Regions from separate parts of the Homo sapiens genome. Here region 2 is linked to region 1. Evidence: fine-mapped expression QTL. A gene starts in region 1. The other region holds a variant in brackets. All regions are shown on one strand. Distances are from middle to middle. Region 1 holds the start of FGFBP2 (fibroblast growth factor binding protein 2). Region 2 overlaps PROM1 (prominin 1).

Region 1 (15,740 bases):
ATGTAGGAGGATGTGTGTAGCGGTCCTGGAACCAATCCCACATGGATCCAGAGGGACGACTGCATGTATACATACGATACAGTGACCCTCTCTGTATATATATGCATTGCTATATAAATGTGTGTGTATTTATATATATATATACACACACACAGTGAGTATGTGGGTGTATATTAAAAAAATAAAATTTTTTTACTTAAAAAGATAAGATTTTTTAAGTAAAAAAATAAGGGCTGGTGCGGTGGCTCACGCCTGTAATCCCAGCACTATGGGAGGCCGAGGCGGGCAGATCACTTGAGGTCAGGAGCTCAAAACCAGCCTGGCCAACATGGTGAAACCCTGTCTCTACTAAAAAAAGTTAGCCGGGTGTGGTGGGGGGCCCCTGTAATCCTGCCTGTAATCTCAGCTACTCAGGAGGCCAAGGCAGGAGAATCGCTTCAACCTGGGAGGCAGAGGTTGCAGTGAGCCGAGATCACACCACTGCACTCCAGCGTGGGCAACAGAGTGAGACTCCATCACAAAAAAAAAAAAAAAGAAAAGAAAAGAAAGTGTTTTTTTAGAGTAAAACAATAAGCCAGGCATGGTGGTACCTGCCTGTAGTCCCAGCTACTGGGGTGGGAGGCTGTGGTAGAAGGATTGCTTGAGCCCAGGAGTTCAAAGATGCAGTGAACCATGATTATACCTGTGAATAGCCAACACACTCATGCACTCCAACTTGGAAAATGTAGTGAAACCCTATCTCTAAACAAACAAACAAACAAACAAAAATATAGAAATCTGTGTACCAACCACGTACCTTGAGTATTATGGACTTAAAATTTTTTCTGGCTGGGCATGGTAGCTCATGCCTGTAATCCCAGCACTTTGGGAAGCTGAGGTGGGCAGATCACTTGGGGTTAGGAGTTCGAGACCAGCCTGGCCAACATGGAGAAACCCCATCTCTACTAAAAAATATAAAAATTAGCCAGGCATGGTGGCAGGTGCCTGTAGTCCCAGCTACTTGGGAGGCTGAGGCTTAAACCCGGGAGACGGAGGTTGCAGTGAGCTGAGATCGCGCCATTGCACTCCAGCCTGGGCGACAGAGTGAGACTCCCTCTCAAAAAAATAAATAAATAAAATAAGATAAATAAACAAAAACCACAAAGTTTTTTTCTATATTGCTATATTTTAACAGATTGCTTTGCAACAAACATATTGCTGTGCCTCTTGAACGAGTTTATATTTTCCTTAGTTCTTAGGCTCCTGGTGGGGACCATTTTAGGATTATGCATTCCTGGTTTTCTCTTTATTAATTCAAAAGCAATTTCTAAAATTGTGTTTAACTTTCATTTCAGCATCAGGATACTCAAAGTGGAAAGGATCACAGATTTTTGGTAGTTTCTGGGTCTACAAGGACTTTCCAAATCCAGGAGCAACGCCAGTGGCAACGTAGTGACTCAGGCGGGCACCAAGGCAACGGCACCATTGGTCTCTGGGTAGTGCTTTAAGAATGAACACAATCACGTTATAGTCCATGGTCCATCACTATTCAAGGATGACTCCCTCCCTTCCTGTCTATTTTTGTTTTTTACTTTTTTACACTGAGTTTCTATTTAGACACTACAACATATGGGGTGTTTGTTCCCATTGGATGCATTTCTATCAAAACTCTATCAAATGTGATGGCTAGATTCTAACATATTGCCATGTGTGGAGTGTGCTGAACACACACCAGTTTACAGGAAAGATGCATTTTGTGTACAGTAAACGGTGTATATACCTTTTGTTACCACAGAGTTTTTTAAACAAATGAGTATTATAGGACTTTCTTCTAAATGAGCTAAATAAGTCACCATTGACTTCTTGGTGCTGTTGAAAATAATCCATTTTCACTAAAAGTGTGTGAAACCTACAGCATATTCTTCACGCAGAGATTTTCATCTATTATACTTTATCAAAGATTGGCCATGTTCCACTTGGAAATGGCATGCAAAAGCAATCATAGAGAAACCTGCGTAACTCCATCTGACAAATTCAAAAGAGAGAGAGAGATCTTGAGAGAGAAATGCTGTTCGTTCAAAAGTGGAGTTGTTTTAACAGATGCCAATTACGGTGTACAGTTTAACAGAGTTTTCTGTTGCATTACGATAAACATTAATTGGAGTGCAGCTAACATGAGTATCATCAGACTAGTATCAAGTGTTCTAAAATGAAATATGAGAAGATCCTGTCACAATTCTTAGATCTGGTGTCCAGCATGGATGAAACCTTTGAGTTTGGTCCCTAAATTTGCATGAAAGCACAAGGTAAATATTCATTTGCTTCAGGAGTTTCATGTTGGATCTGTCATTATCAAAAGTGATCAGCAATGAAGAACTGGTCGGACAAAATTTAACGTTGATGTAATGAAATTCCAGATGTAGGCATTCCCCCCAGGTCTTTTCATGTGCAGATTGCAGTTCTGATTCATTTGAATAAAAAGGAACTTGGAAAACATGGTCTGTATGTTACTTCCTTGAGTAGATCCAGCGACTCACAACTTAGATGATGAAATTTGAGCATGTGTTATTTGTGAATTCCATTAATTATTATTAAAGGGCCCATTATACAGAAGTAATTCAAGGTCAAGGTCAAAGTGGGCTATATTTTAGATCTTCTTCAGATCTGAAGTCATCATTTCTTAGGGAACTGTCCAGGTCACAATATATACAATTGGATACCAACTATAGGCAAACTCTACTTTGCCTGATGTAATCCTAAACATACACCAGTAAAAATGAATTTTTTTAAAACAACACACAAGAGGCTTGCAATTTAAACAAGACTATATAGTGTATAATTCTTCTGGAGGAAATTATCTCTTAACTTCCCATTTTTTGAAAACCTGATTTTTGTATCACCCATTTAAATATTAATTCAAGTTATTCAAGCCAACTTAATACTCCTAGTGTCACTCTTGCAACTTTTATTTATTTATTTTTCAGTATCTCAAGCCTAAAGTTCTTATCTTTGCTAAAAAAAAAAAAAAAAAAATCAGCCTGGCCGGGCGCAGTGGCTCACGCCTGTAATCCCAACACTTTGGGAGGCCGAGGTGGGTGGATCATGAGGTCAGGAGATCGGGACCATCCTGGCCAACATGGTGAAACCCCATCTCTACTAAAAATACAAAAATTAGCTGGGTGTGGTGGTGGGCACCTGTAGTCCCAGCTACTCGGGAAGCTGAGGCAGGAGAATCGCTTGAACCTGGAAGGCAGAGGTTGCAGTGGGCTGAGATCGCACCACTGCACTCCAGCCTGCTGAGAGAGCGAGACTCTGTCTCAAAAAAGAAAAAAAAATCAGCCTTTCCTCAACCCCATTGCACACTCAGCCTGGTAGTACAAGATGTTTTCTTTTTTCCCTCTCTCTTTGGAAATAATTTCCTTGAAAGAACTCTCGACACATCTCTGTCCACTTTCTCATTTCCATTGGTTCTTCAACTCCTGTGACCTGCCTTCTGTCCCCACCACTCCTGAAGGGCTATTGTCGGGGTCACCGAGGACTTGACTTTTGTGAACACATCCCCTTTACAAAGATCTCCCTTCAGGCTCCCAAAAGAGCCCTCTCCAGTGTCCTCTTGGGGCATGGCTGTCTATTCCTCAGTCTCCTTCCAACACTCATCTCTCCAGTTCTTAAATTTAGGTGGCATTCGCAGGTTCTCTCCTGGTGTGCCCCTCACTCTCTCCTTGGGTAATTTCATTCACTCATCACCTCACCTGCTCCCTTTGGTTCTCTCATCACATAGAGCTCCAGCCAACCCTGTGTTCATGACATGTCTCCACCCAGATGCACCTTAAACCAGAGGTTGGCAACCTTTCTCTGAAAAGGGTCAGACAGTGAATATATTTTGCTTTCTGGGCCATGTGGCCTATGTCTCCTCAACTCTGTTGCAGCACAAAAGTAGCCATAGGCAATACGTAAGTGAATAGATATTGCCGTGTTCTTCAAAAATTACAAAAGCAGGCCACATGGGCCACAGTTTGTGGCCCCTGCCTTAAACCACTGTCCTGACCTGCACATCGCCACAGGTTCTCCCCACCATGTTCCCTTTCTTGAATTTCTCCACCTTCACCCTATCACTGGAGCTGGAGGAACTCTTAAGTCTGCTTTCCCCCTCCCTTCCATCTACCTTTGGTCACAAAGCCTTCCTCTCCATCCCCACTGATGAGATCCTCTTACAGTTTTCATAATGTCTCTTGGCTAGCGAGGCATTCCCCTCTTTCTTTTAGGCTTCCAGCCCCCTGAGTTTTGGCTAGACATAGGCTACCTGGTGGGGACTATATTTCCCAGCCTCCCTTGCAGCTAGATGTGGCTGAGTGACTAGGCTTAGGCCAGCAGTAAGTAAGTGAAGTGTCTACTAAGACAAAACTGCAGATCCTGGACTTGTTCCACTGGAAATGGCAGCAATCAAACAAACCTTGGAAGGCATGTGTTAAATTTGAAGAACTTCCAGGCATGAACCTGGAAGACTGGTTCATAATAGAGAAGGTCTTTTTGTTACAGCAACTCAGCCCATACAGAGCCAGCTTGCCCACTACCCTCCCTGTACAAAGTCCCCCTGTCCACCAATCCTTTCTCAACACAGCAGTCTCTTACAGTGCAAATCTGATCATGACACTCCACACTTAAAAGATGAACAAGCAAATAAGAAAGAAGAGAAATTGGGCTGAGCATGGTGGCTCACACCTGTAATCCCAGCACTTTGGGAGGCCAAGGCAGGTGGATAATCCGAGGTCAGGAGTTCAAGACCAGCCTGACCAATATGGTGAAACCTTGTCTCTACTAAAAATACAAAAATTAGCCAGATGTGGTGGCATGTGCCTATAGTCCCAGCTACTCGGGAGGCTGAGACAGGAGAATTGCTTGAACCCAGGAGGCGGAGGTTGCAGTGAGCCAAGTTCACGCCATTGCACTCCAGCCTGGGTGACAGAGCAAAACTCCGTCTCAAAAAAAAAGAGAGAAATCACTGCCTTCAAGAGGATTAAAGCAGGATGAAGTGATAGAGGAACAGAAGAGCTCTTTTACATTGTATAGCGAGGGAAGGCCTCTGTGAAGGTGGCAGGGAGAAGGCAGCCATGCGATGTTCAAGGAAAAGATTTTCAGGCAGTGGGCACTAGTGCAAAGGTCTTGAGGTTTGGCTTGTCCCAAAAGCGAAAAGAGGAAGAGCGTGATTAGAGCTCTTATGATAAGTTCCCATTGCAGGGTAAACTCAGCCTCACTAGGGCATTGAAAAGGGCTGGCCATAACCTCAGGGTGTCTAGATGGGTCTAGCAAGCTGTTCCCTGCAACACTGTGGTGGGTGGGGGAAAGGAGGTTGGAGCTGAACACCTGCCTTCCTGTGGCCACGACATGGAGCCTGGGTTGGAGTGCTGTTTACTCCAGGGGCTCCTGAGTTGGAAGCACACAAAGGGCAAGCCTCTGTCTTAGAACTGGCCCTGTGGATTGGTACGGGGGCTGCGGACCCCACCCTAAGTCACCTCTCCAGCCTGATTCTCACCACTGCCTCCTTGCCCTTGACATTTCAGCAGTCCATAAACCTGCACTCCAGGATCACTCCTTTACAGGAAGCATTATCCTGCCTTAAGAATCTGCCCTTGGCCAGGCGCAGTGGCTCGTGCCTGTAATCTCAGCACTTAGGGAGGCTGAAGTGGGCGGATCACTTGTTAGGAGTTTGAGGCCAGCCTGGCCAACGTCGTGAAACCCCATCTCTACTAAAAACACAAAAATTAGCCTGGCATGGTGGTAGGCGCCTGTAATCCCAACTACTCAGGTGGCTGAGGCAGGACAATTGCTTGAACCTGGGAGGTGGAGGTTGCAGTGAGCCAAGATTGTGCCACTGCACTCCAGCCTGGGTGGCAAAGTAAGACTGTGTGAAAAAAAAAAAAAACCTACCTTTAGCTGGTTGTGGTGGTTCACATCTGTAATTCCAGTGACTCCAGAGGACAAGGAAGCAGGAGGATTGCTTGAGGCCTGGAGTGTGAGATCGGCCTGGACAACAGAGTGAGACCCTGTCCCTAAAAATTTTAAATTTAAAATTTAGCTGGGTGTGGCAGCCCATGCCTGTAGTCCCAGTTACTTGAGAGGCTGAGGCAGGAGAAGTAATTGAGCCCAGGAGTTGGAGGCTACAGTGAGCTATAATTACACCAGTGCAATCCGGTCTAGGTGACAGAATGAGGCCAAAACAAACAAACAAACAAACAAACAAAAAAAACACCTGCCCTTTACCCTTTCTCAACCTGACAAATTGACTGACTTGTCTTGAAGGTTTGGCACCACTTCTTGGAAGCTTCCTCTGCTCCCCACCTGGGGTGATGCCCTCTTCTGGAAGGCTCTCACTGCTACACACACAGTGGCTGCCGAAGCTCAGCCTGGCTTTAGTTCCAGCCCTACTAGGTCTTCTCAGGACTCAGGATATCCAGGTGGAAGGAAGGCTGTGCCAGGTACCAACTACCCTACGTGGGATCGCCAAGATAAATCCCTCACATTCAAACTAGTCCCCCAACATCCGTCAACCCTATTCCTAACAGCAAATTGCCACCTTTAGTCCACTCCACAGTGCCCTCTGGAAGGGTCATCAAAAGACAGTTATGACCATACCAAACTATGATTCTTGACACAGAATCAAAAGTTATTTTCAATTTATTTTTTTTCTATTGTAGAACAATAATAATAATATTTAAAATCATATTTTCCTGTGATATAATTAAAACTGTGTTATTTCAATTGAATTTGAAATAGAATTCATGGTCTAAAATAGACTGAATCCCACTGTGAACATATATTTGCATGCCTTCCTCGTCATCATTCAGTTGGTGCAATTGTAAGGCATGCAATAACAAGGGAAGTGAACATTGCAGCACTGTGGCCTGTGGCCACGGTGATGGCGGGACAGCCCCACAGAGGCCACACCAGGTGACTCTCAGCTCGGTGGGTGGGAGGGGGAGTGTCTCTGTGTCCCTCTGGCACACACATCCTCACACAACCTCACATAGTCTTTTTTGCATTTGCTAGGCCATCTCATAACACTTAGGCTCATAAAATTCTGGCTTCCTTTGGATTAACTAAACCCATGGTCCCCCAAGATGGGGATTCCAGGGAGCAGGAGGGAGCCTCGAGGCAGCCCAGACTCCCAGCTGCAAACCTCACTTTCCAGAATACCACTGCCACACCTTGGCATATACCAAATGTTGACAAAGAAGGCTGTTCCCGTACAAGGGCCAATTTTAGAGCAAGCACCCTGTGGTTGGAAAACTGTAAAACCCTCAGCCCCAAAGCTGTGTGTGGCGCTTTGTGCGTGACAGGGCTGGGGCAGATCTCTCTGAGGCACTCAGGAAAACCATTCCCTTTGCTTGTGGTGGGCGGCCCCTGGTGGCTGCTCTGCCCTTGCCAAGTGTTACGTGTCTAAGGTCTGTGGGCATGTTTCTCATTTGCTGCAAAACATCCTCCCCACCCTTGCAGAGAAAGAGTCTTTTGTGCAGCACCCTTTAAAGGGTGACTCGTCCCACTTGTGTTCTCTCTCCTGGTGCAGAGTTGCAAGCAAGTTTATCGGAGTATCGCCATGAAGTTCGTCCCCTGCCTCCTGCTGGTGACCTTGTCCTGCCTGGGGACTTTGGGTCAGGCCCCGAGGCAAAAGCAAGGAAGCACTGGGGAGGAATTCCATTTCCAGACTGGAGGGAGAGATTCCTGCACTATGCGTCCCAGCAGCTTGGGGCAAGGTGCTGGAGAAGTCTGGCTTCGTGTCGACTGCCGCAACACAGACCAGACCTACTGGTGTGAGTACAGGGGGCAGCCCAGCATGTGCCAGGCTTTCGCTGCTGACCCCAAACCTTACTGGAATCAAGCCCTGCAGGAGCTGAGGCGCCTTCACCATGCGTGCCAGGGGGCCCCGGTGCTTAGGCCATCCGTGTGCAGGGAGGCTGGACCCCAGGCCCATATGCAGCAGGTGACTTCCAGCCTCAAGGGCAGCCCAGAGCCCAACCAGCAGCCTGAGGCTGGGACGCCATCTCTGAGGCCCAAGGCCACAGTGAAACTCACAGAAGCAACACAGCTGGGAAAGGACTCGATGGAAGAGCTGGGAAAAGCCAAACCCACCACCCGACCCACAGCCAAACCTACCCAGCCTGGACCCAGGCCCGGAGGGAATGAGGAAGCAAAGAAGAAGGCCTGGGAACATTGTTGGAAACCCTTCCAGGCCCTGTGCGCCTTTCTCATCAGCTTCTTCCGAGGGTGACAGGTGAAAGACCCCTACAGGTAATACCCTTTCCTTTACTCATATACAGAGACTACGTGTATATACTTATATACAGAGACTACGTGAGAGGCACTTAGCACTTTCACAGCTGCTGCGACCACATCAGAGTCTCAGCGTGTGTTTGGGGGTGGGTTTGAGGCTGTCTGTTGCAGAGCAGTGTAGATGAGGTAGTTCATCCGGAGTGGCACTTGACCCTGGAGTTGCATAGGAATCACCTACAAGGAGCTCTAAAAATGCTGATGCCCAGGCCCCTCGCCAGACCGTTCCATCTATGTCTCCAACATAGTAGCGCAGGAATGTGGACTTTTAAAACTCTCCCCCAAGTGATTTGAATGTGCAGCCAAGGTTGAGAATCTCCTTGTGATGGAACCACCTCACTGTTAGACCGAGGCCTTTGGAATTCTGCCGGGTAACGTTTCCTAATGAACCAAGCATTTGCTGCAGCTGTTAGTGGCCGAGGTGCTATGTCATGGTGGAGGTGTCGCCACACCCCGTCTTGTTCTCAGTTTTTTCTCCTACAGTCAAGTTAGGGTGGGGAGTGTTGTGCACTGAGGAAAGTTTGAGTCAAATAGTCTTTAAAGTCTTTCTCACAGCTCTCAAAGCCTTTAATTGTTTTTTGTTCATCACAGAGGAGAAAATCTAATTAATAATAACAGATTTAATCAACTCCAAGTATTGCTTTTAAAAGACCAAACTTTTTCTTGTGGAAATAAGGCTTATTACTGATCTCTATCCTTAAATGTAGCAGCTTTCATTAATTTTGCACACCAGTAAGGAGTTCATTTACATGGGATTCTAGTCTTACTTGTGCACTTTGAGTTTAAAAGGAGAGTTTCTGAGTTTTTTTCATATTATCTATGTAAGAAAAATAGGAACAAAGCAGATTTCCTGATAAACAGCACTTTGATAACGAATACCACCAAACAAATAAGGCTTTTTCTACAAGCGCCCAGGCAGCAAGAAATGTTGGTTCACAACAAAGTTGTTTTGGTGTCTGCTGTTCTGGGCTGGAGGTTTTCTGCTTGTTTAAGATTTCAGATCTGTCCCAGAGGAGAAAAGGGGACACTTAAGCCAAAAAAAGTTACTATTGAGAGGAGGTCCTTTTTTTTTTCTTTTTAAAGTGATTTTTTTGGTCTTTCTACAAATAAGACATACAAATCATTTGAAAAATTCAAACACAACAGAAAAATACAAAGAATTTTAAAACTTCATCCATAATCCCACCACACAGAGATAAACAATGTTAACAGAAGAGTACCCATTTAGACATCCATCCATGCGTATTTACACAGACAGATGTACAGCGTATATACAGATGCATACAGGCGCTAAAGCTCAAAACAATATCTTGATCCTGCAGATAAGCTGCATAGGACTACTGTATTAGCTTGCTGGGGCTGCCATAGCAAAATACCACAGAATGGGTGGCTTAAACAGCAGAAATATATTTTCTCACAATTCTGGAGACTGAAATTCCAAGATCAAGGTGTCAGCAGGATTGGTGTCTTCTGAGGACTCTCTCCTTGACTCATAGATGGCAGCCTTCTCTCTGTCATTCCTCTGCGTGGGTCTGTGTCCTCATCTCTTTTTGTTAGGATACCATTCACACTGGATGAAGTCCCACCCAAACAGCCCCATTTTACCTTAACCACCTCTTTAATGGCCCCTATCTTTAAATACAAACGCTCCCTGAGGTACTGGAGGTTAGGACTTAAGTCTACGGTTTTTAGGTTTTGGGAGGGACACAATTCACACAATTCAACCCATAACAACAAAGAAAGAATTTTTCATCCCTTCCTTTTTTTTTCTTTTTTTTTTTTTTTAGATCTGACCTCTCCCTGACAGACAACCATCTCTTTTTATATTATGCCGCTTTCAATCCAACGTTCTCACACTGGAAGAAGAGAGTTTCTAATCAGATGCAACGGCCCAAATTCTTGATCTGCAGCTTCTCTGAAGTTTGGAAAAGAAACCTTCCTTTCTGGAGTTTGCAGAGTTCAGCAATATGATAGGGAACAGGTGCTGATGGGCCCAAGAGTGACAAGCATACACAACTACTTATTATCTGTAGAAGTTTTGCTTTGTTGATCTGAGCCTTCTATGAAAGTTTAAATATGTAACGCATTCATGAATTTCCAGTGTTCAGTAAATAGCAGCTATGTGTGTGCAAAATAAAAGAATGATTTCAGAAATACGACTTTAGTCTTCTTAATGAACGTGATACCTAGATGCTATAGGGATCATGTATACCCATGAAGTCACTATTATTTTATTCAGGGTGCCATCGTGCATTACACAGACTAGGTGGCTTAAAGCAACAGAAATGTGTTCTCTCACAGTGATGGAGGCAAGAAGTGCCTCAAGATGTCACCAAAGTTAGTTTCTCCTGGAGGGTCTCAGGGAAAATCTGTTCAATGCCTCTCTGTCAGTTTCTTAAAGTTGCTGGAATCCTTGACATTCCTTGGCTTATAGACATATCACTCTAATCCCTGCCTCTGTCTTCACATGGAATTTTCCCTTGCGTGTGTGTCAAATTTCCCTCTCCTGATAAGGGCACCAGCCATTGGATTAGGGTCCATCCTAATCAAGAAAGACCTTATCTTAACTCCATCATGTCTGCAAACACCCTATTCCCAAATAAGATCATATTCACAGATTCCAAATGGACATAAATTTTTGGTGGGCACTATTCAACCCAGCACAGCCACCATGCAGCAATAGCAACTAGCCAAAAAGATAGAGAAGTGAACCTGAAAAAGAACAACCCTGTACACTCAGCAATTAAATTAATCAACAGAGTTGGAAAGGAAGAAAATTAGATTTTATTAGACATACGCGAAAAGTGACTCACTTCTTAATTTCGTATTTGTCTTACCTAAGAACACATTAATAGTCTACTCTCTCTCTTTTTTTTCTAATGGCTATTTATTTATTCGAGATGGGTCTCGCTCTGTCACCCAGGCTGGAGTGCAGTGGTGCAATCTCGGCTCACTGCAACCTCCGCCTCCTGGGTTCAAGCGATTCTCCTGCCTTAGCCTCCCGAGTAGCCGGGATTACAGGCATGTGCCACCATGCCCAGCTAATTTTTGTATTTTTAGTAGAGACAAGGTTTCACCATGTTGGCCAGGCTGGTCTTGAACTCCTGACCTCAGGTGATCCGCCCGCCTCGGCCTCCCAAAGTGCTGGGATTACAGGCGTGAGCCACTGTACCTGGCCCACTAGTCCACTCTTGATGTACTTAAATTGTTTCCCCAACTAGCCCAGCAGTGCCCAACCCTAGCTACATAATGGAGTCACCTGGGGCAACTTTTCAAAAACACTGGTGCTTGGACGTCAGCACCAGAGGTTACGGTGTAACTGGCCAGGGATGGGGCCTGAGCATGTGCAATTTTACATTTCCCCTGGTGACTCTAATATGCAGCCAAGTTTGAGAAACACCGCCCTTAATTAATTGAATTAGAATCTCTGGGGTGTATCCTAAGTAATTTCCAGGCAATTCTATGTGTAACCTGAGTTGAAGACTACTAATATGGCCTCTATATGTAGTTCACACAATTAAGAAATATTTATTCATCATCAACTATGTCCCAGGCACTGTGCAACACATTGGCTAGGGGAGACATGAACTAACCAACTAGGTTTCACATCTTAGAAGTGCAGTGAAGTAGTGGAAACCAAGACAACACATTGATGAGTGTTGGAGATGACACAGAAGGCGGTGGGTGGGGGCAGCCAGGGGACGTTTGCTGGGGTTGAGTTTCTAAAATATATATACATCAAGCATCTACTGTGACATACCAAGTCTATTTCTTATAAGGGCTCTGAGCCTTTCACTCACCCCCTCATATAGCTCTCACTACATCCCTAGGAGGTAAGTAGTTTTATTCCCAATTATAAACCAAGGGACTTGAAAGTCTGGAGAGGTGAGTTGTACACAGCTTGTTAAGAGTCAGGACAGCAGAGAAATCCAGGTTCACCCAATTCTAATGCTCATGGCGTTCAATTTGTAAACATCACAGGATAGGCTGGGATTTGTCACAGACCATTTTTCACCAACATTTTAAACTAACATCACCATATAGCTGACCAGTGATTTTAAAGATGAAAATCTGTGCTACCCAAAGGGTGACAGGTGGGGCAGAGGCATCTGCTTCTGCTGGGGAGCTTTAGAAATGCTAATTCTTGGCCGGGGACGGTGGCTCATGCCTGTAATCCCAGCACTTTGAGAGGCCGAGGAGGGCAGATGACCTTAGGCCAAGAGTTTGAGACAAACCTGGCCAACATGGCGAAACCCTATCTCTACTAAAAAATACAAAAAATAGCTGGGCGTGGTGGTAGGTGCCTGTAATCCCAGCTACTCAGGAGGCTGAGGCAGGAAAATCACTTGAACTAGGGAGGCGGAGGTTGCAATGAGCCAAAATCATGCCCCTGCACTCCAGCCTGAGCGACAGAACAGGACTCCATCTCAAAAAAAATGCTAATTCTCAGGCCCCACCACAGACAAACTGAACCAGAGTATCTGGGGTGAGGCCCAGAAATGTGTATTTTAACATTTCCATGTGTTTTATGCAGAGTAACATTGGCCAAGCAATATTTCAGTCATCCTAAAAGGAAAGGCTTTGTTAAACCTTAAAGCAGATAATTCTGACATAGGCTACAATATGGACGAACCATGAGTACATTATGCCAGATAAAATAAGCCAGTCACAAAGGACAAATACTGCATGATTCCACTGATATGAAGTACCTAGACTAGTCAAAAATCACAGATACCAAAAGTAGAATGTTGGCTGCCAGAGACTATGGTGAGGTGAGAATGGGAAGTTAGTTTAATGTTTACAGAGTTTTAGTTTTATAAGATTAAAAGAGTTCTTGAAGTGGACAGCAGTGATGGTTGCATAACAAATGTAATTAATACTACCAAATTATACACTTAAAATTGTTAAGATGGCATATTTTATGATATACGTATTTTATTTGAATTTTATAAAGAAATTTTAAAAAAGAAAAGGAAATTCTTTTCACCAAAAGGTGCTGAAATAACAGCATATCCATGAGAAAAATATGAATATCTACTATTACTTGATACAAAAAAATGAACTGAAATTTGTTTATACACTGAAATGTAAAGGGTGGTTTCTCCCTAATACTGGGGGTGCTCCTTTCCTTCGACAGTGACATAATCTATTTGTTCTAATTCAGTAACTGCTACATCCATCTTTATTAATCAAGTACTCACCCACACCCAGGCCTTCCTCATTGATGGGTCACCAATCATGAGGGCTGGGAACAGTAGTAGAACTCAGCCACTGAAAGAGTTCATTACAGTTCACAAATTCTAGCAATTAATCATATGATCTTCCATATTCAATAAGCCAAACCAGGGAGTGGTAGAAGCAACAGATTGGAGTCACCCTCTTTGTGTTGTCACTGATGGTGTCAAATAATGATGAAACCAGTGAAGATTCCCAGGTGGTAGGGTCAATTTAAAAAAAGAAAAAGAGCAGCGGTTGAGAGATTTTATGGTGAAATCATAGACATAGAGAACCGATCTCCCTGAATCCCTGCCTCTTCTGTCCTGATTTTCTCCAATCACCTCCTCCAAGGGGAATGTTTCCTCTGAGGATCAGCTGCATGTAATGCTCACATTGTCTGCTAAAGATGTGTAGGACACAGTGCCGATAACATCATTTGTCTAGTAATTTTCTCAGTCACATCTTCCAAAGTCTATCTTACCACTTAAAAATGACGCCAACCTGAGACCAAGGACATGAAATGTGCATTGAATGTTTTGTCCATTAGCCCACTACTGGGGGCACCATTGCTGTGAACAGTACGGCATCGTCTAATTACAAGTGAACCGGATACTAAGCCAAGCAGAGAATAGTCTCCAGTGCCACTACGGTGTGGCCGGAATCTGCCAGCTTCACAGAATGGCAACTCCATGATGACAGTTGTCAATTGCCACTGCGTACCAGTAATGGCCACCAGGTGACAGCAGAGGACCAACGTATTGTATTTGCCAGACAAAGTCAGGCCCCACCCCCAGAGCTAATGATCCCTGTCACCTTTAGACTGAGAGATCAACTGTGGAGAGGAACCAGAGGAACCACAGTCCCAGTAGGCCATTTTATTCTCTGTGGCACTCAGATGAGGTTTAACTTTTGAGTCTATTGTGTTAGTGGCAAGATTACCATCTCCAGTCCAATAATGGATTGAGGCAGTGATGCTGGCCACCAGGGCTGGAGGGTCCAGTCACCCACTTGGCTTCATGTTGTCTCACCTCATATGCATCCCTTCCATGGCATCCACAAGGGTTACAAAAATGTCTCCTGAGGCTGCAGTAGTGGCTGTCAATAGCTTATAGCCCCATAGAGGAGTGTCCTTAATATACCGGTCAGTTGTCACCAACCAGACAGCTTGCTGGCTGTACCCAAGAGTAGGTGAAAAAGGCATGTCTGGTTCTTACGAGCACTGAATAAGGCAAAGGTAATGGCTTTCCATATAGCTCATTGGGCTACGGGCTCCTCCTGCAGCAGCTCTTCCAGAGTTGTCTCTAGGGCTAGATGGCTGCTGCCACCAGGTGGACACCAGCACTTTTAGTCTTCAGTAAACCAAGCCCCAGCATCCTCACAGACTTCCTGGGAGTGGTCTCCAGGTAGTCAAAAGCTGTCCCTCTGAGTAATCAAGAGAGGGACAAGAAGACCCTAAAGGTGAGGTCTCAACTTACTTGTGTAAGGAGAATTATCTATGAGACCAGACTTGCCCTATGAAGTGTTCCACTTCCATTTAATATGAGAAATCTGTGCATTTTCGATTCTGCCCTTAGTACTTGAGGGGAACCTGACAGGTGGGGCTTTAGTTTTTACAAATAAGGCAAATAGTTGTCCAATTAATCAAATGGATGGATTTAAACTGGTGGCATTGACCTACATGATCTCCACTATACATTCCTGCACTTACGTTCAGCAATTCAAAGGTTATTTGATTTGGGGGGCATTTTGGACACTAGGACAATTATTGACATTTTTCACAATTATCAATCACACCTTCTGCAGAAAAAATTTAAGTGATTCCAGATGATGCATAAATTATGGCATCTAGCTGCTTTGAATAAAATGGCTAAGAAAAATATGAGCATAAAAATCCTTTGCTAGGTGACACAGTTTGGCCCTATCTCCACCCAAATCTCAACTTGAATTGTATCTTCCAGAATTCCCAATGTGTTGCAGGAGGGACCCAGGGGGAAGTAATTGAATCATGGGGCCCAGTCTTTTTCCCATACTATTCTCATGATATTTAATAAGTCTCATGAAATCTGATGGATTTATCAGGGGTTTCTGCTTTTGCTTCTTCCTCATTTTCTCTTGCCGCCACCATGTAAAAAGTGCCTTTCACCTCCCACCGTGATTCTAAGGCCTCCCCAGCCATGTGGAACTGTAAGTTCAATTAAACCTCTTTTTCTTCCCAGTCT
Region 2 (13,389 bases), 38 kb before region 1:
TTCTCAGTGAACTTATAATCTCATTAGAGATCAGAGCTTCACAAACGAGAAAGAATAGTACCATTACCTGTCTACCTGACTGCCATCCATCTCCCTTCCTTTTCCCCCTGCCCTGACACTATGAACTTATCTTAAAAAGAAAATTAACTAAGCAGATGCTCCTTTAACTCTAAAAGTTTTCTGAGGCCAGCCTCCATGGCTTATTTAATTTTGTGCCCTCACTGTCTGGAACAAACCTCCCCAGAATGGCTGCCTGTGGCTATTACTATAATTACTGAGATTGCTCTTAATTGAATGAAAAGCTTCAGTGGTGCTGCTTGGTCAAGAGGCACCAAGCAGAAGTAAATTCTTTGTTTTTTAGTGTCTTAAATGTTGGGAAGCATTACTACCCTTGAATGCCTCTTGCTGCCGGGAAAGGTTGTTCTCCCTTCCGGGAATGCCAGTAAGGCCTAATTGAGGATCCATTATCCTAAATGTCTCGCAGGACCATTATGAAATTGAGATTTGCATTCTGCAGGCATTTGATTTAGGATGCTCATAAAATTCTAAATACCCCATGCATCTGCCATGTAATCTGGTTCAGTAAAGAACACAGTGGCCCCAAATATTTCTGCAACCACAAAATATTTTAGAAAAAGGCCCAGGGAAAAGAATCCAGTATTTCTTTATCTGTAGTCTAATCATGATCTAGCCATATGCCTTCATTATTATAATAGGCACTTAGAACATCAGAGGCCTTAAAAGAACATAAAAATCTTAAGGGTGTTTTCATCAGTAGCCTTGGAGAAGCTCAGTGTGCTGTGCTTATGAACCCTGTGTGACACCCGTGGGAATCAAAGCAAAGGAAGGAGGCAATGATCCCATGACCACCAGGAACAATGCAAACCTAGAATCAAAATAAAAGTTTCTCCGCTGGTTGAATTGGAAGGCAAAGGGTGTGAAGGGATCTTTTCACTCAACATTATTGTCCTCTGAGGAATTGATAGAAGACTCTGATTTTAGAAGCCAAGAATAACTCATCGGCTCCAGCCTTAGTCCAGCAGCTTTTGTGTTAGGGTGGCGTCACCTGTGTCATGTATACTAACACTGTGCTTGCCTCTCCAGGTGGCTGGGTGGCCTGGTCATCTGCTCTCTGCTGACCCTCATCGTGATTTTTTACTACCTGGGCTTACTGTGTGGCGTGTGCGGCTATGACAGGCATGCCACCCCGACCACCCGAGGCTGTGTCTCCAACACCGGAGGCGTCTTCCTCATGGTGTGAGTGTCTGCTCCTCTCTGTCATGTGGGAGTGGGAATGCAGGAGAGAGACTGGGTGCTGACTCTGGTGTTACATGAACCCGGCGCCCTCTGGGCCACGTACGCGGGGTTCCAGCTCCCAGGTCGCGAGGAGGAGAGATCCTGCTGTGATGGGACCTTCCTTGATTTGGGTACTTCTGTCAAGCCTAAACATTAAAAACAAACAAACAACAACAACAACAACACTAAATTACTTGCATTTTGATAGACCAGCTTAAGCACACTATTTATATATGGCAGGCTCCTTTTAAAAGCAGCTAGACTTGCTTTCTTGATTTCTATTGTTCCTTCTTTTTGTCATTCATTCATTCATTCATTTATTCACTCACCAGAGGCTGAGCCAATCTCTTGTGGGACAGCAGTATTGGTCAGCAGTATTGCTAGCTTGAAATTCTAGAAACTTGATTTAGAACTAAGGCTGCCAAGGCAGAACCCTTAGGATTTAGACAGGTAGCCTAGATTAGGCGTGAGAACAGGTGTGAGGCAGCAGGGAGAGGTATGCCTGCGGCAGAAGACTGGAGCGACTGTCCCTGCTTCAAAGACATTGACCTCCAAGTTAGTGTCTTTGAAAAACCTGTGACTCTATGGATACGACAAAGCATAGCAGGCATGAGCCAGGTGCAACCGGGGCCAGAGCCAGAAATGTAAGCTAGGATGTGGTGTAATGGCTTTGAATGCTCTGCAGGGAGAGAGCTGTGTGGGTTCTAAGTCAATATTCTCTTTTTGATAAGATCATGAAGAATCAGCAGTAGGGAGTGAGATGGGGCTCTAGGTCAGTGGTTAAGGTTTGAAACAATTCCTTTGGGGAGTGAAGAACCAAAACCTGAGTCGTGTTCTCTCATTTATCCACTTAAGTCACTAGCACGGGGCTGTGAGTGAGCGGGCTGGAGAGCAGATGCTGTACATTAATTTGATTAATTTGTTTTTTAAAACTTTGGGTCTTCAAACCAAATTTTCACACACACACACACACACACACACACACACACACACACACACACACCAAACAAACAAAAAACTTTGGGTCACTGGAACAATAAATCAGGCTTCTTACAAGCTATGATTATAAATCCTTTCCCTACAATAATTAGGCTCCAGTATGGTATAGGCCTTTACAAACTAGAGTCGTAAAATCACCTTAGAGCTAATGACCTGAGGTCTACCAGGGCTGGACAAAGAACTCCACACAAACAGAAGCTTAGATGCTCACAGGCCAAAGCTTAAGAAATTATATTTGTCTGGGCACGATGGCTCACGCCTGTAATCCCAACACTTTGGGAGGCCGAGACAGGCAGATCACTTGAGGCCAGGAGTTCGAGACCAGCCTGACCAACATGGTGAAACCCCATGTCTACTAAAAATACAAAAATTAGCTGGGCATGATGGTGCACACCTGTAATCCCAGGTACTTGGGAGGCTGAGGCACGAGAATCACCTGAACCCAGGAGGCAAAGGTTACAGTGAGCCGAGATCGTGCCAACTGCACTCCAACCTGGGCGACAGAGTGAGACTCTGTCAAAAAAAAAAAAAAAAAAGAGAGAGCGAGAAATAAAGAAAAAAAGAAAGAGGAAGGAAGGAAGGAAGGAAGGAAGGGAGAGAGAGAGGGGGAGGGAGAGAGAGAGAGAGGGAGAGAGAGAGGAAGGAAGGAAGGAAGGAAGGAAGGAAGAAAAAGAAAGAAAGAAAGAAAGAAAGATTAGCTGCAAGTACCTGTGGACAGAGAAGAAAAAAAGGAGAAATCACATCTGCAAGGAAAAATGAATTTGTCTTCCCTTCTTGTTCAAATGTACACAGATACACAAAAATACATTAAACAGAAGATTATTAGGTTGCTGTAAAAGTAATTGCAGTTTTTGCCATTACTTTTAATGTTTAATTGATTTTAAGTTTAATGTTACAAATTTAACAACAATTTAACTTGGTTGTTTGTTAGTGTTTTGGTGGGGTGTGTATATATACCTATATTTCCATCTTTTTTAACTACTTGAAAGGTAGGGTAAATTGCTCTGAAAAATGGTGCACCCCTCATCGAAATTTTATTCACACTTTTTAAAGGGATACAACAAAAAATGTGATATCAAGCTTCAAAGAAAGAAAAAATAAAACAGAGAAATCATCAACAAATTGATGGAGGCTAAAAGCTACCTTAGTTTAGATATACTAATTCTATAGACATGGAGACCTGTGGCATGGAGGCCATAGGATTCATCTCAGCAGCAGGAAGAAGGCTGGTAACTGTCAGATGTTGTTTGATTCATTTCAAGGAGTCTGCAGACTTAGGGTGGCTATGATTTCTTTATTGTTGAATGCAACCAGTCAGCATGGCACGCTTTGCTGTGCTTGGCAGAATTCTCTGCTTCTTGAGGTATCTGGTAAACAACTGGATAATTGCAAAAGGAGGAGATGATACAAGCGTCATCAGTCTAATCAGACTAATTAGAAGAATGCAGTTTCTTTTTTTAAAACTGTTTACTTGCTTGTAGAAACCAGAAAGAGTATGTGTAGTTTTGTTGCAACCAAAACACCACCTGCTCTTTAAAAATGGTGACACCATCCAATCAAGAGCATGGTCTCTTTCAAAACCAAGCAGGAATTCTTACCTCCCAAAAGGATACCAGTGAAAGATCTGGAAGGAGGAAAGTCAGAGAGCCCTGGCTCTGCTCTGATCTTTTATCTTCAGATGGTCCCAGAAGCATTTTATTTTAATTTTATTTTTGTGGAGACAGTCTTGCTTTGTTGCCCAGATTGGTCTTGAATTCCTGGTCTCAAGAGATCCTCCGACCTCAGCCTCCCAATGTGTTGGGATTACAGGTGTGAGCCGCTACCCCTGGCCCCAGGAGCATTTTAGCAGCTGAATAGGATGCAGTGGTGAATGTATTATCTGTTGCAGGGGGGCGTAGGAGGCCTCTCCAGAGATAAGGAGATCTAACAGAGGCACAAGCATCTCGTGATTTGAAGCCCATCATAAAACTTCCCATTTTAGGTATTGACAACAATGCCAAGAGCAGCCACAGGTATCACAAACTGGGCACATTCCTATGGCTGGTGGCAGTTTCTGAGGTTATGGAAAGCAGTTTGTCAGGCTATATAGCAAGGGCTGTAAAAAGACCATGATGCTCTTTGCCGAATAATTTCCATTTTGGGGAATCTAGGTGAAGGAAGTAAGCCAAACTGTGAAGAAATCATCATGAAGAGGGAGGTGTTTTGCAGTATTAGTTATGATAGTGAAGCACTGGAAACAGCCTACATGTCCAGCTGTAGAAGAGTGGCCAAGTGAGTTATGACACATCCATGCGTGGAAGATCACATGGCCCCTGAAATGATAACTAGGTGACAGTCCTAATTTGTTGACAAAAGTTTCTAAGATAATGCATTTGAAAGGGGGTCAGAAAATGATGCATGTATTATCCTAACTGTGCAAATCAGGGGTTAGTCAGCAAGCTTTTCCCAAGAAGGGCCAAGTAATAAATATTTTAGGTTCTGCTGGCCATACACAGTCTTTGTCGCATATTCTTGTTCTTTTTCACCTTCTTTTGCTCTTTCATCTTACTCTTATTCTCCCCCTCCTCTTCCTCCTTTTCAATATTTTCAGTACACATTAGCCATTATCTCACTAACCTTAGAAAAACAGACCTTGGGCAGTGGTTCCCCTACCCCTGATCTAGGAATGTGCATATTTAGAAAATAAAGGCTGGAGATAGTGACTGTATGCGATTTAGAGTAAGAGTCATGGTGCCCTTTTTAGACAGCTGTCTTGGTTTATATGAGTTGTTTAACTCCAACACACAGACACACATGCTCAGACAGGGATCCTGGCATGGCCCTCACTCACTTCTTCTTTGTGCTCTCCCAGACTCAGAAGCCTTGTAGGTCAGAGAAAGTCAGGCTGACCTAGGCCTTTCCAATGAACATTACTTGCTATTTATTTTAGTGAAGATACACAAATATTGTAATTATGGCTTTGGCATCTGCAGGCAAAGGGGAGAATCGTGCCCTTAGGAGGGGATGCTGTGGTGATTGCGAGCATCAGCCCACACCCTTCTGAGGCTCCTTCCTAGTGTGCACCAGTGATGGTATTTGATTTGGCAGCTGCACCTAGATCGATTTAAGAGTTTGTTCTCTATGTCTACATCTAGACAGCTAAGCACTGCTAGAGAAAAGCTACGCACCGGGTACATTGGGTATCCCTACAAACTTAGGATCTCCTGTCTCAAATGGACTTGCCATAGTCTGACAAATCTTTTCTTTTATTTCTTTTGTTTTCTTCCTTCTCTTTCTGTTTTTTTTCTTTTTCGACACCCCCCACACTTTCCTGCAACAGTCTTTTCACTCTGATACGTCCATTTTCCTCTACTTCACCCCTCTCTCAGCAGATGGCTTTACCTCCTTCTTCTCAGAGAAAATAGAAGCCATCATGCAACTTCCCATCATCAAACTTCCAAACACACCTGCTCTCAAACACATCCATCCCTTCTCTGCAGTGCCAGAAGCAGAGGGATTCCTGCCTGCTCAGGTTGATCCCGCCAGCTATATTCTCAATCCCATTCCTTTCCCTGATCCTGATAAAATGGATCATCCCCTTTCTTTTCCATGTCTTTATTCTCTTCCTGTCTCCTTGACTTTCACTCAATACTTAACCAGGCTCTGTTCTCTCCCTTCTTCAGAAATAAAAGCAGAAACTCTTTACCCACACTGCCTCTTCCCTATAGCTCTCCTTCCCCCACACAGGCTCTCAGAGGAGTGATCTGCGCTTGCTGCCTGTGCCCTCCTCTCCTGCTGACTCTCCGGTCCACTCCGATGTGGTTTCCTCCCCCATGACTGCACTTGTTTCAAGTTGGCAGTGACCTCTCTGTGCAATGCAGACAGCACATTGGTTGGTGACAGCCGACCATTCCTTCCTCCTGCAAACACTCCTTTTGTCCCCTAGGTGGCATCACACCCACATAGTTACCTTCCTACTTCTCTGCCTCATCATCTTGGTCTGGTTTGCTGGCCCCTCCTTCCACCACCCATCTTTGTAAATGTTGAAGTCTTCCAGACCCAGCCCTAGGCTGTTTCTCTCTCCAAGCCAGCCCTGGGGATAAATGACCATGGCTAAGCTGCTGGCTCCCTAAGGTACATCCGAAACCCAGATATCTGAGCTCCAAACATACTGACTCCTACACAGTCTTTCCATTCAGTGTCTCTGGCAACAAGACCAACATCCAGCCCATCTTCTCTTTCCTTCCAGAGCATCAGCGCTCCCTGGCACTGCCCTTGGAGCCCTTCCTTGCCTCTACCTCTCGTGTTCAGCGCTTTCCGAGTCCTGCTGCCTCCTATATTATGCCTCCTGTGTCTCCTATATTACATCTCCATCATCCACCAACTCTCCACCAATCCTGCCCCCTTAGGCCACCCTCATGGGCCATGATAACAGCCTCTGCAATGATGTCCCATCCACGTTGGCACCTGTCCAGTCTATCCTTTACACTGTGCCAAGAGTGCTTGCGTTCAGAGAGAAGTCGGGTTGTGCTCCTCGTGTGCTTTCAGCCCCTTATTGGCTACCCCTCGTGGGTCCCCAGGCCCCTATACAGTACATCCCCGCCTTCCCTGGAGCTGTCCCTCCCCAGGTCCCCAGGCCCCTATCCAGTGATCCCCCGCCTGCTCTGGAGCTGCCCCTCCCCAGGTCCCCAGGCCCCCATCCAGTGTACCCTTGCCTGTCCTGGAGCTGCCCCTCTCCAGGTCCCCAAGCCCTGTGTCACTCCTAGGTGGATGATCTGTTTCACCTGAATAACACTGAAGACCCCAGGGCTATTTTATAGAGTATAGGTAGATTTAGTAAGTATCAGTAGGTAATATTGAATCATTCTTTGTTGAATTACTAACTTTATATTTTTTTCCAGTGGAGTTGGATTAAGTTTCCTCTTTTGCTGGATATTGATGATCATTGTGGTTCTTACCTTTGTCTTTGGTGCAAATGTGGAAAAACTGATCTGTGAACCTTACACGAGCAAGGAATTATTCCGGGTAAATATGATTTTCTACCCATTATGAAAGGACTTGAACAGAAACTTGGATTTCTTCATATATTGTGCATTACTTTAAGAGCAGTGCAAACTTATAAGCAGTTTGGTTTAAATTCAGTAAATTTCTTGAAATTATTAAATTCAATAAATTTTCAAATATTCAATAAA[T/C]TCAGTAGATCCTTTCTATTTGTAAGAGAAAAAAAAATATGGGAGCGTCCTTATTTTCTGATCATAAGCGAAATCAGGGTCAGGAGTTAAAGTCCTGCCGCTCAATGTGGATTGCAGTATTTGGGGAGAAAAGAATTTTCCTCAGCAGTAGTTTCCAAATGTGGCTGGGAACATCAGAAGATCAGTTCCCAGGTTCCTCCCACACACCCTGGGAGATTCCCAGGTGACAGAGGTGTCCACACAGATGAGCCCTATATTTGAAGGGAAAGAGACTGATAAGCGGATGACTCGTGGCAGAGGGCTGACCTGGCACACGTCTAGTAGTGCCACCAGGAAATGAATTCAAGCTTCGCTTTCTCCCTCTCAGTCCAACTCCCACCGACTCCGGGGGACCAGTTGGCAGTTTTGCTTTCTTCATTAATGAGGAAATTTTGTTGTAAGTGTCTGGCTTCTAATTGTGGCTTTTCTGTGTTTTTTTTTTCTCCAGATTCTGATTTTTAAAATATATTTCTATTTCACTCTTTCATTGTATATACATTTTTCCGCCTAAGATCTGTTATGAAATCAGGAGAATACTGTTGTCACAGTATTTTAGTTATTTCACTGGTCGAGGGAGATTAAGTTGAGATCACCAGCAGGTCAAATGATCTCCATTTGGCCTTTTGATAAAAGAAAGACATCAAGCCAGGCATCATTATCTCCTGTAGAGTGTCGAATCATTCAAAGATAATTTTTCTTAAGTACGGGATATTTCAAAACCATTTCTACTTCTCAAGCGCGTACAGTCATGCATTGATTTGCCCATCTTAAATATGTATGATGCAGAGGCAGAGAGTGTGTGAATTTTTTTTTTTTTTTAAGACGGAGTCTCACTCTGTCACCCAGGCTGGAGTGCAGTGGTGCCATCTAGGCTCACTGCCAGCTCCGCCTCCCGGTTTCATGCCATTCTCCTGCCTCAGCCTCCCGAGTAGCTGGAACTACAGGTGCCCGCCACCACGCGCGGCTAATTTTTTGTATTTTTAGTAGAGACGGGGTTTCACCACGTTAGCCAGGATGGTCTCGATCTCCTGACCTCGTGATCTGCCCACCTTGGCCTCCCAAAGTGCTGGGATTACAGGCGTGAGCCACAGCGCCCGGCCAAGTGTGTGAATTTTAATACATTTTGTCCAGAGAGAGAAATAGCGCAGCACTGGGTCCACCACTTAATGGCTGTATATTAGCTATTCTGATCAAATGGTCTACTCTGCTTCTATTTATAATGTGTTTGTTTTATTAAGATAAAGGTTAAAGATTAAAGAGTTCTCGGCGTGGTGGCTCACGCCTGTAATCCCAGCACTTTGGGATGCTGAGGTGGGTGGATCACCTGAGGTCAGGAATTCAAGATCAGCCTGGCCAACATGGTGAAATGCTGTTTCTACTAGAAATGCCATTTCTACTAAAACTACAAAACTAGCCAGGCAGTGGTGGTGCCTGTAGTCCTAACTACTCGGGAGGCTGAGACTGGAGAATCATTTTAACCCGGAAGGGGGAGGTTGCAGTGAGCTGAGATCGCGCCACTGCGCTCCAGCCTGGGCAACAGAGCAAGACTCTGTCTCAAAAAAAAAAAGTTCTCAAAAAAAGTAATTTTAATAATTTTGATTGATGCTACCCATCAATAAATATAATAAATTGATTTATTCCAATTATACTATTATTTTCTAGTTATAAGTTGGAAATCAACCAGAAAAATAATGTTATGAAAAATTTCCAAAATACATTCAACAGAATATTAATTTTATTATATTAGTATGTATGTTAGTGTAAAACTGATTTTTCGAAAATACTTCCTAATGTGTTCTAGGTTTTGGATACACCCTACTTACTAAATGAAGACTGGGAATACTATCTCTCTGGGAAGCTATTTAATAAATCAAAAATGAAGCTCACTTTTGAACAAGTTTACAGGTATCAATATTTGCATTATACATTTCGCTATTTAAGATGTTCTTTTTCTGGAATGAGAATTTTGCATTTGAAGTGTTTTTAAATCTTAATTATATGACTTTCATGTTTCAGAGATAAGCTGTCCTGTATTATTTTAAAGACACAGTAGAAATTAGATCAAAAATATATTCCTTCTACTGAAAGCCTTTGAGACCTTGGAATGGTGATGTTTCAAGGTCTCGCTCTCCAATAATCTCTGGAACTCACTAGTTAAGGTGACCCTACGATGCACTAATGGGACCCCATGAGAGATCTTGTTCAAGAACCACATTGCTCTAAGTAAAAGCCATCCAACAAGAATAGTGAACAGGTGATTCAGTGATTTGGATCACTGATAGGGGGAAGGCAATGCAGTTGGAGAGCTGTCTGCTGTCAGGACTCCTGGGCTCTGACCCCGGCCCCCTCCTGGAGGCTCTGTGCCCTGGGCAATTCCACATCTTCTCTGTTCCACGGGGGTCATGATCATAGGAATCTGACCCTGGGGTTGTTTTAGGGTTAAGTAAGATACATGAGATTCGAATGGTGCCTGACACATCATTTGGACTTGATAAACAATACCTGTTCTTAATATTGTTCATCTAGGCTGGCCATAGTGGCTCATGCCTATAATCCCAGCACTTTGGGAGGCTGAGGCAGGTGGATCACCTGAGGTCAGGAGTTCGAGACCAGACTGACCAATATGGTGAAATCCCATCTCTACTAAAAATGAAATACAAAAATGAGCCAGTCATGGTGGCATGTGCCTGTAGACTCAGCTACTCAGGAGGCTGAGACAAGAGAATTGCTTGAACCAGGGAGGCGCAGGTTGCAGTGAGCCAAGATCGTGCCACTGCACTCCAGCCGGGCAAAAGAGTGAGACTTTCTCTCAGGAAAAAAGAAAACAAAAAAACTATGTATATATATATATAACAACTCCTGACCTCAGGTGATGTATACTACCAGCCATCAGACTAGGAGCCCATTTCACCACTGGGCAAAAGCAGACACTACACAGTGAGCTAAGAGAAATGCATTTCATATATATATATATATATATGTTTGCATTTCATATATATATATATATGAATGAACGAATATATATTTCATATATATATATGAACGAAATGCATTTCATATATATATATATGTTTCATTGAAATGCATTTCTTTTAGCTCACTGTGTAGTGTCTGCTTTTGCTCAGTGGTGAAATGGGCTCCTAGTCTGATGGTTGGTAGTCTTAGGTGTCTGATCTTAGGTGTGAACCCATGGGCAGCTCTCTGCTATGAGCCACAGGGAAGGGAGTCACTTTAAGAGTATTTGAAATCAGTTCACAGGATGCTTTTTAAACACTGGTGACACTTATTTCTCCCACTGTGAGACCGAAGGGCCGGAGGATGTGTGTGTTAACATGGTGTGTTCATAGTGAATGAAACTAAAAATAACAGGGCGATAGTGACTCACATTGAGAGCAGAACACTTCATAAGTCAGAGACACAGAAGCCCTTCCATGCCCTACACGTGAACCACCATTCTTAGTGTTCTTATTATTCTCTCAGAGTTCCTTTATGCAATTTTAAGCAAGTATTAACCCTATGCCTAGCGTTATTATATAGCTTAGTAGTATTCGCCATCATTTGATATTCAAGAGACTTCTTAAGCATTTTGTGAATTTGTTATACTTTTAGGTATTGCAAGGTTCTTTTTGTACTTTTTAAAAATATTTTGAAATATGCACACATTTAATTAATCAATGGTCATTAGTTCCTGTAGCCAAACCACAGAAGTTATTTTAAAACAAATGTAGCTGTGTCATTACTAAGTATTTATTTATTTATTTATTTATTTATTTATTTTCTGAGATGGAGTCTCGCTCTATCACCCGGGCTGGAGTGTAATGGCACCATCTCAGCTCACTGCAACCTCTGCCTCCTGGGTTCAAGCGATTCTCCTGCCTCAGCCTCCTGAGTAGCTGGGATTACAGGTGTCTGTCACCACGCCTGGCTAATTTTTGTATTTTTAGTAGAGATGGGGTTTCACCATGTTGGTCAGGCTGGTCTCGAACTCTTGACCTCAGGTGATCCACCCACCTTGGCCTCCCAAAGTGTTGGGATTACAGGCGTGAGCCCCAAGCCCGGCCATTACTGTTTATTTCTATTACCTAATAAATATTATGCTAAGTGGTAATAGTGGTAATTTAACAAAATGCTAAGAGCTAGCACCTGCATGGTGCTTTCTGTATGCCAAGACTGATGGAAACACCTCGGTTGTGTAAACTTCTTTAATATCCACACCACTCTGTGAGCTAGGTACCATACTAACTACTTTTATTATTTTATGAGCACCTGTTGTAAAGCGAGCTAAGTACCATACTAACAACTGCTTTTATTATTATATGAGCACCTGTGGTAACGGTATACCTGAGATATTATACAAAATTGAATTAGACTCTGGTCCTACTTGTCAAGGAAAACCTAGCAGGGAGTTAGATCTGTAAAGAAGTGTTCTAGAATACAGTGATACTTACAGGTGACAGAAATGTATTGAGGCTACTCTAGAAGCCCCAAGGAGGGTGTCTTATGCAGTGTGGGAATGGAGGGATTAGGAAGGACTACCTGAGGGAAATGGCACCTAAGCTGATCTTAGTAGGTTAGTGGGGATTGGCTGGGCCAAGAAGGAAAAAGGTACCTCGGCCGAGGGACACAGACAAAGGCAGGGAGGTAGGGGCAGTAGGCTACTCTTTGGGAGCTTTTAAAAATCCCACTACCACTTTGGGGCCAAATACAAAGTTAAAGGACAGAGAAAAGTCCTCGTTTCCATTATTCAGCCCATGGCAGTGAAAACTGAGCTTCTGGAGCCCTGAGACAACACTCAGAATGAACTTATAAATGTTACTCGTAGGCTTTGTCTTCTAAATCTTTCTTAAATCTTCTTCTTCTTCCTCTTCCTCCTCCTCTTCTTCTCCTCCTCCTCCTCCTTTTTCTTCTTTTTCTTCTTCTTTTCCTCCTCCTCCTCCTTCTTCTTCTTCGTCTTCTTCGTCTTCTTCTTCTTTTTCTCTCTCTCTCTCTCCTTCCAACTGGTCTCCTTGTTCCCATTCCATCCTCCAAACCTCCAAGCATGATGTGATGTGACCCAACCACATGTGTCACTTCCTACCTAAGTTTCTCCATTGCTTCTGGCAGAGGCAGCTAACAAGTGTCCAGTGCCCATCCCCCATACTCAGGGTAGACATTGATAGTCAACCGAGGTCTTCTGCTTAGCCCAGGGAGCCTCAGGCTCCTTCTGGACAGCGTGCTCTAGGCATACATTAGCAATCCATTGGCTTTTCTCTGTACAGTTAAACCCGTTCACCACCCCTAGGCTGAGAGGACAAAGCCAAGTGTCTCAGCCTGGCATGCTAGCTCCTTGTGATTCTGGCTCCTGCAGAGCCCTCCAGTTTTACCTCTGGTTGTTCATGCATCAGGCTCTAAGTTCCAACAACACCAACCCGCTTGTTCTCTGGAGGGAAGGATCACACCTCCTAGGGATGTGGGAAAGTTGCTTCTTCCAGGCATCCCTCAGGCCTAGAGGGCCCTGGCTGCTGTGGCAAGGAAGAGATGCCACATTCCTGGATGCCGCTATTTTTGTGGCAGGAATACACATCCAATGAGGCCTACCCTTCTTAGCTCAGTCAAGTCTAAAAAAGTCAAATTTTCCTATTTTAGAGATATGATTGAGGCATGGTGAGGTGAGGCCATTTCACCCAGGGGGCTGACTTAGGTTACAGCCAAACTGTGCTGACCATCGAGATGTCTGCGTCTCCTCCCTATCTCTGTCCTCACCATGAGGATATACGTCTAAGCGTATATTTAGTCAGTGCCGCTCGGCCCTGGAAATACAGAGGAGAAATGTTCTTGGCAGGAGCTTCATAGAATCATTTAATGAAGTTCATAATCTACTCTGCAGTGCGTCTCTTTCTAGCAA

Evidence for each region. PIP is the estimated chance that this variant, and not a neighbour inherited with it, causes the effect.
Region 2: its variant is fine-mapped to the expression of FGFBP2 in tibial nerve (GTEx, PIP 0.92).

Annotation. Positions count from the first base shown.
Region 1 is chr4:15,954,963-15,970,702 of GRCh38, reverse strand. It overlaps FGFBP2 (fibroblast growth factor binding protein 2), which reads left to right and starts at 7,528. Exons shown (of 2, transcript NM_031950.4): 1 at 7,528-8,265; 2 at 10,092-10,458. The coding sequence starts at 7,574. The coding sequence ends at 8,245. PROM1 (prominin 1) reads left to right here. Exons shown (of 28, transcript NM_006017.3): 28 at 1,335-2,475. RefSeq lists an enhancer at 6,657-7,498.
Region 2 is chr4:15,994,406-16,007,794 of GRCh38, reverse strand. It overlaps PROM1 (prominin 1), which reads left to right. Exons shown (of 28, transcript NM_006017.3): 13 at 1,105-1,257; 14 at 7,176-7,299; 15 at 9,307-9,410. Among named protein-coding and RNA genes, the nearest start is that of FGFBP2, 38 kb to the right of the region's middle. The variant T/C (reference allele first, on the strand shown) is at 7,467.